Homo sapiens: one gene and its partner. The protein of the gene in region 1 purifies or fractionates together with the protein of each later gene. This does not show direct contact. Each region holds a gene or a part of one and is shown in the gene's direction. Other genes may lie near its edges.

Region 1 (4,098 bases):
AGGTCTAGGAGACATAGATGCATAGGTGGATTGGATACATCGATGGTAGCTATAAGGTAAGCAGACAATGGTCACAGATGGAAAGGTGGACGGACGGATGACGGATGGTTAGAAGATGTTTTGAGGGCTTGCTATAGTGCCAGGCACAAGGCTAAGAGATTTCGTCCACTATTTCATTTGATTCTCTCCAGAACCTTATGAATGGCATATTACCTCTGTTCCTATTTTTCAAATAGGGAAACTGAGGCCTCAGGCAATGTAAGCAGCTTGCCGCTTAGCAATCTTTTGCAGAGCCAGGAAGCGGGAAAGCGTGTCTTAATGGACAGTACCAGCCTCCACAGTGTGCCCTCGGCCCCCTCCCGGTGGAGAAGAGGTTCCAAGCCCCGGCGTCCCGGGTAGGGTGTCCCTCATCCCTCCCTCCCCACCACACTCCTGGCGCGCTGACATTACACCCGCCCCGGCACCCCCCTCTCACTGATCCAACACCCCCGGACACCCTGGACAGCGCTCTCAAGGCAGTAGGTCTTCGACTTGGGAGCCCCGGGGAGCTGGTTAAACACGGATCCTCTCCCACAGTGGCTGAAAAGCGCGCAGTCCCGGAACCTGAGGGTTTACCTGCTTCTACGCTTGGCCAAGGGTCTCTAACTGGAAAGGTGAAAATTCTGTCCTGAGATTTTAAGATTCCCAGAAACTTTCAATCGTTCAGTTCCTGTAACCATTAATTGAGCGCCTAAACTGCGCACCTTGACGCTGTTAGATGCTGCAGTAAGGAACTCGGAGTCAAGTGTGGGGGACAGGTTGGTCAATAAATGACGACATTCCGGACGGCTGTGCTTGGTGCCCACGGGGACCCGCGAGGGGGCCCAGGGAGGAGGCGGGAAAGGGGCAGGTTCACCGGCCCGCTGGGTCTCCAGCACATTCCAGAAGTCTAAGCCAGTCCATCTATCCTTCCAAACGCCCCCACCTCGCTTCCCTCCCTGGAGCCCGCATCCCACGGTGCAATTTCAGTGACTTTATGCGGAGAAACTTGATCCTATCTCACTCTCCCCAAACTTCCTAACTGCCTTGGGTTTGTCACCTGGCCGTGTGGGGAGCCACCGAGCGCCCCCTGTGGCCCCCACCCGAGCTCGGCGGGGGGAGCGGCGCGCGGGTGCTGGGGGACCGACCCCTCCCGCGAAGGCGTCGGCGCGGGGCTGGCGTAGGGCCTGCGTCAGCTGCAGCCCGCCGGCGATTGGGGCGCGCGCGCCTCCTTCGGTTTGGGGCTAATTATAAAGTGGCTCCAGCAGCCGTTAAGCCCCGGGACGGCGAGGCAGGCGCTCAGAGCCCCGCAGCCTGGCCCGTGACCCCGCAGAGACGCTGAGGACCGCGACGGTGAGGCCCTACGTCCGCCAGCACACCCGGGCCCGCTTCTCCCCGACGCCCGCCCTCCTCACACTTGCCTTCTTCTCTTCCCTCTAGAGTCGTGTCTGAACCCGGCTTTTCCAATTGGCCTGCTCCATCCGAACAGCGTCAACGTGAGTGAATTTGCCCGAAGCTTGTCTTTGCTGAGCGGGTTTGGGGACGTCTGCCCGCCCTCTTTCCCTTCACATTTCATTGCATGGGTTCCCCAACAGCGTTCCCTGGTTCTTCTTTGTGACCCCAGTCAATGTCCTGCCTCCCCCGGCTCCCGCTCTCTCGCCCCTGGTCTGCGGCGTTCTCTCCGGAATCTTGCCCTGGGCCGCGGACGCCCAGGAAAAGAGCCGGGTGCCCCAGGCAGCCTCGCGTTGGGGGCGACCGCGCCATCCCGGGAACCGCGAGGCGATCTGAGTCGCCTCCACGTCTACCTAAAAGCTGTCGGCCGGGAGGGCGGGGCCCCAGAAAGGAGCATTCCTGCGGGCTTTTGCTCGACGATCCCCTGCTGAGGCTGTCGCGGCGAGGGTCCTGCCGAGGGACCCCGTTCTGCGCCCAGGCAGGCTCGAAGCACGCGTCCCTCTCTCCTCGCAGTCCATGGCGCGGTTCCTGACACTTTGCACTTGGCTGCTGTTGCTCGGCCCCGGGCTCCTGGCGACCGTGCGGGCCGAATGCAGCCAGGATTGCGCGACGTGCAGCTACCGCCTAGTGCGCCCGGCCGACATCAACTTCCTGGTGAGTGTTGCGCGCGGCGAGTGTTGCGCACCTTGTGAGACAGAGTTTCCGCAACAGTACGCGGACTGCCTCCGGCCCACCGCGCGGCGCGTATGGCGGTTCGCACCGGGTCGGAGCCGCAGCGGCGCGAGCCCGTGGTGACCTGGGTGTCTCAGCTGTTCCTGGAACACTGACTGAAGTCCTGCCCTGGCTCTTAGCTTCGGGGATCCGCGACTATCTGGGGACCGGTAAGGGTAGCGGTGTCGCCGCACAAACCAAGTTTGTTTTAACCCTGGGAATTCGGGAACCCCGAGAAGTCCTCTGTTCAGCACCTCGGATAGCACTGGGTTCTCTCCTGGGCTGTCAGAAGGAAGATGGCTGTCACCACAACTCCTAACATATCCCAGCTAAGGGCCCCTCCACACGCAGTCATCTTCCCATCTTTCCCACAAATAATGTAATTTTTTGTTAGTGACATTTCGGTGCCTTTCTTTAGATTTATGTTCCCCAGCTCTCTTAACCTCAGGTCCCTCATTCCCTACCCTCACCTGTAAATAGGAGAGAGCAAAGGGATGGAAAAGGGGTACGGGGAGAGGAAGGCGAAATAACCGTAGACAGGAAAGAGTTCAAACTGTCTCACTAGCCAGTGATGCTGGAATTCAACTTCTGTTTCAACTGCCCTTTGTAATAGTAACTAAAACAACAGTTTAATTTGGCTATGAGAAAGGAACAAGAGAAGTGGCCAGTGTCCAATGGGTGACAACAGTCCAAAGATACACTGCACTACAGGGGGTTGGGGAAAGAAAAAGCTGAGGACAAAATAACTTTCATTCTGATCATGGTTCCCCATGGGCTGTCGAATCACCTCTGGTGCTCTACTGAGTCTGAATCTCCAACCTCGAGACTCAGGTAGCTTCACTTTTACCAGCTCCCCTGACAATTCCTTTGCATTGCTTTTGAAATTTGTTGAAATTTTATGGTGACTTAAAAAGCTCATAGAGAATAATGTATTCATCCAAGCTGCTTTGGGTTCCACCTGGAATTGAGGAAATTTTACCTTATGTAGATGTTTGAAATGGGGAGAAAACCAAGGAACAGTTTCCAAATATCTGTGGTATATATTTCAGGTTAAATGTTTGTTTCTTTGACCTGTGCTAACTTGGCATTAAAGAGAAGACACATAGGAAGGTTGTATATTTAAACTATGAGAAAAATGTTTCATCTTCAATAGGAGAAACAATCCCCTTCACCCATCTTTCTTCTTTCTCCTGTAGTCATGAGCTTTTAACCTATGCCTAAAAATTGAGCCAGTGCTACAAATATAAGGATAGATCTTGTGGATAAAGAATTTTAGACACAGAAGGAGGAAGAAAAATCCAAAACATGCCACATAGAAGACTCCACTTTCTGACCCCATAATTCCCTGTGCCCAGTCACACATATTTTGAGCTTTGCCTGCTCAACATGTCAGGGGCTCAGCCCCCTCCCCTAGCTTTCTCTGCCATCTGAATAAAGGTTATATGGATTCTAGTCTAATTTTTCTAATCACACAGACTGACCCCAAAGTAGTATCATATTTACTTAAATTATGTGAGTTAGCGAATTAATATGACTGACTTTTAATCATGCCTATTCAAATGGGTTTTTTTCATACTTAATCTATTTGATTCACCAAGCTCCCAAAATGCTACTAATCTTCCTTTTGCATTGTTGAGGAACTTGAGCAGAGCTCACTGGGTAGCAGCTAGCTCTTCCCTGGGTATCACCTCAAATCTTGACTTCTCTCCCTCTCTCACCCTCTTCTCATCATGTAACAGGATTGTGGGGGAGGAGAAGAGGAAGGCTGCTCTTTCCAGAATTTTCCATACTGCTTTTTATGCTCTTGTTGTTATCACTTATTACTATTATCATTACTTTAATCCAGGTGATGGAATGGCACGTGTAGTGTTAGCAACTTGAAAAAAATAGATAATAAGCAACCATCAATAAAAATAG
Region 2 (3,500 bases), on another chromosome or scaffold:
ATTATTTGTGTAATATCTGTCTCCCCCAACAACACTCTAAACTCTACAATGACAGGGACTCAGTCTAGCTTGTCAGAGTAGCCTCAATACCGGCTATAGAACCTGCTTTATATATGCTGAGCGTTCAATAAGTTCTTGATGAAAAAGTAATAGAAGATATTTCTTGTGCCTCTCAGTTCTGTCATCAGTTGGTTCCGTTCCATTTGTTTCTCTCACAGTCGGGGGTGATATGTGTGTGCACGCCTACCTCAGCGGGCAGCCCTTGGAGGAATCACAGCTGAGCATGCTGGCCTGCTTCCTCGTCTACCACTCTGTGCCAGCTCCACAGCACCTGCCACCTATAGGACTAGAAGGTAATTGCATATCTAAGTCTTATCTTCAGTAACTCTGTTACCTACCCCTTTATGTTCTAGTTTCTCAGTAGTTACTGCCCCTAGTTTGACTTTCCTCTTCATTAATGTTGCAGTGTCATTGTTAGGGACTGTTTTGGAGCAAAAAAGAAAAAATTATCAACTTTATATATGAATAACTTTCATTTTTATTCAGAAAAGGATGGATTCTTCTTCACAGAGCCCCAAACACTGATCTATACTAATAAACTAAATATTCCATATTATTCTTTACTAATTGATTTTTTTATTAAAGCTATTTTTCTTTATTTTCTAGGTTTTCAGTTGGGTTTTTTAGAATCACATATAATCTTAATTTCTAATATTACAAAGCTTTACAACTAATAAATACCTAATTTTGTGTTTGAATTTTTTTATAATAGTTTTAAAAATTAATAGTATTATCACCTGATTGTATTTTTCAGAATATAGAAACAGATAAAAAAAATTTATCCATTAAGCTGAATACTAAGATATGATGAATTCTAAGCACCCAATTTTTTTGAGATTCTCAAAAAAAATATTTTTTGATAAGGGCAAAGATTGTTCCATTTAATCATTTAAACTTGAAGTTTAATTACATTACTAGTTTTTTGCTGTTTTGCAAGCCTCTGATAAAAGTTTACTATCTAGAGACTTCTGGTTATGGCCATGATGGAATTGCTTGTATTGGACTCACTTGCCCTCAAAAACAAATATAAAAGCTAAAAAAAAAAAATAAGAAAAGGGAAGTACAACAGGGAGAGCTTTATATTCACCCTAGCTTCTCCCCCAAAGGCATTTGCCAGTTCATAGTACAAGAAGTAGAGTGCCAGCAAAAAGCAGCAATGCTGCAGGGCTGAGGAGCCAGAGGTTGGGTTTGTGATTGCCCAAGAGCCTAGAACTTGAGGAACACAGTCTCAGGCAGGAGAGAACAATAGAAATCATAACTCAGACTCTGGATATACCTTTCCCTTGAGTTACTTAATGATATTTTAGCCTTCATATACATGGGATAAGACTTCAAGAGATCTAGCAGAAGCCACAAGGCCAAAAATGTAAGCAAAAATGTCAGCAGCAGCATAGGACTGAGGAGACAAAGGGTGGAATTCAACGCTTGTTAAAGTGAAGTGGCTCTGATCAGCATCCCAGCTCCTCAGGTGAATTAATACATGGCCAAGCCCTAAGCCTGCTCTAGCCTAATTTTAGATCTGGTCTGCTTCAGTTTCACTCCAAGCAGACTTGACCTACAATTAGCCTAGAGCAGAACTAAGGTGATCTGTGTGCTTTCTCCCCACCTGACAGAAGAAAATGTAACCTTCATAGGAGAAAGAAAACATACCCAGAGCCCCCGCAATTTTTAGTCTACAGGATTCAGTGTTGAATCAAAAATTACGAAACATAATAATAATAAAAAAACAGATAATAGAAACAGACTTATGTGTGATTCAGATATTGGAGTTATCATACTGGAACTTAAAATAACTATGTCTAATGTTTCCAGGAAAATAGAAGGAATGATAGGGAATTTCACCAGAAACCTGGGGTCAATAAAAAAGAGTTAAATGGAAATTCTAGAACTGAAAAATATAGTAACTGAAATGAAGATCTCAGTACTGGATTATTTGAAGTGAACTGGAAGACACTTATCTGCTGGAAGACAAGTAGAAAGTAAACAAACTGAAGCACAGAGGGAAGAATGGTTAGGAAATACAGAGAAGAGTACAAGAGACATGTGGAAACCGTGAAAAAAAAATAAACATGCATGGGGTTGGAATAAGAGAATAAGAGGAGAGAAAAAATGAGTTAGAAGCAATATTTGAAGAGACAGAAGCTAAGAATTTTGAAAAATTGTGTTAAATATTAACCCACAGTGAACCCTAAGCAGGATAAATACAAAGAAAACCATACCTAGTCACATTAATAGTCAAACTACTAAAAGGAAAAGGAAGACATTTTAAAAGTATAGACTTCTTTTCAGGCCAGGCTGGACAAACAGGGTTGTTCAATGGTCAACTGTATTAGAACCAGTAAAATACCACTTAGATAGTATTTGAAGGTAGACAGGCACTTTTGCACATTATATTTAAAGAATTTATATATATATATATATATATATATATAAAATTAAACAATATTAGTAGTTTCACATGTAGTTATAGGTCACTTTCTGAAGTCTAGAATGGGTAAATTCTATCAAATCATATACAGGTTTGAGTATCCTTAATCTGAAATCTGAAGTGTTTGAAATCGAAAACGTTTTGAGCACCAACATGATGCTCAGAGGAAATGTTCATTACAGCATTTTGGATTTGGGATTTTTGGATTAAGAATGCTCAGCCGAGGCTGGGCGCAGTGGCTCACGCCTGTAATCCCAGCACTTTGGGAGGCCGAGGCGGGCGGATCACGAGGTCAGGAGATCGAGACCATCCTGGCTAACACGTTGAAACCCCATCTCTACTAAAAATACAAAAAAAATTAGCTGGGCGTGGTGGTGGGCACCTGTAGTCCCAGCTACTCGGGGGGCTGAGGCAGGAGAATGGGTGAACCCAGGAGGTGGAGTTTGCAGTGAGCCGAGAGAGCGCCACTGCACTCCAGCCCCGGTGGCAAAGTGAGACTTCGTCTCCAAAAAAAAAAAAAAAAAAAGAAAGCCAGTAGGTGTAATGCAGATATTCCAAAATCTAAAAAAATCCAGAATCCAAAACACCTCTCTTCAGAAGCATTTTGGAAAAGGGATACTCAATTTACATTACAGTGTATTAAGGAATTTCATAATTTTAAATATTGTCTTTGCATAGTCATTTTCAAAGGGAAAAATGCCTGTTTTAAACATGATTGTGTTTCTGAAGCTTCCTTGAAAGGAGAGGTATGGCTGAATTTATTTAGAGATGTGACCTTCCCACCCCATTTCCATTTTAGGGAGCACAAGCTTTGCTGAACTGCTCTTCAAATTTAAGCAGCTAAAAATGCCAGTGCGAGCTTTGCTGAGATTGGCTCCTTTGCTTCTTGGAAATCCACAGCCAATGGTGATGTGACCGTGTCTGGCGGTGAACCTACCCTGAAACGTGACTTCTGCACAACAAACGTGACCAAACATCAAAGCTAAAGCAATGTTTATAAAGTTTTATGGTA

Evidence for each region. Proteins that work in one complex are often made in the same cells at the same time.
Region 2: the proteins of PENK (region 1) and ANAPC1 purify together in Homo sapiens (affinity purification with mass spectrometry; 3 studies listed by BioGRID and IntAct, with this or other methods). This does not show direct contact.

The regions. Positions count from the first base shown.
Region 1 is NC_000008.11:56,443,842-56,447,939, reverse strand, and holds the start of PENK (proenkephalin-A preproprotein), read left to right. Parts: upstream 1-1,298; 5' UTR 1,299-1,371; intron 1,372-1,439; exon of another isoform or gene 1,440-1,458; 5' UTR 1,459-1,514; exon of another isoform or gene 1,515-1,983; 5' UTR 1,984-1,986; coding exon 1,987-2,124; exon of another isoform or gene 2,125-2,133; intron 2,134-4,098.
Region 2 is NC_000002.12:111,769,194-111,772,693, reverse strand, and holds part of ANAPC1 (anaphase-promoting complex subunit 1), read left to right. Parts: intron 1-218; coding exon 219-353; intron 354-1,559; exon of another isoform or gene 1,560-1,633; intron 1,634-3,287; coding exon 3,288-3,403; 3' UTR 3,404-3,500. UniProt on the Homo sapiens protein: Component of the anaphase promoting complex/cyclosome (APC/C), a cell cycle-regulated E3 ubiquitin ligase that controls progression through mitosis and the G1 phase of the cell cycle.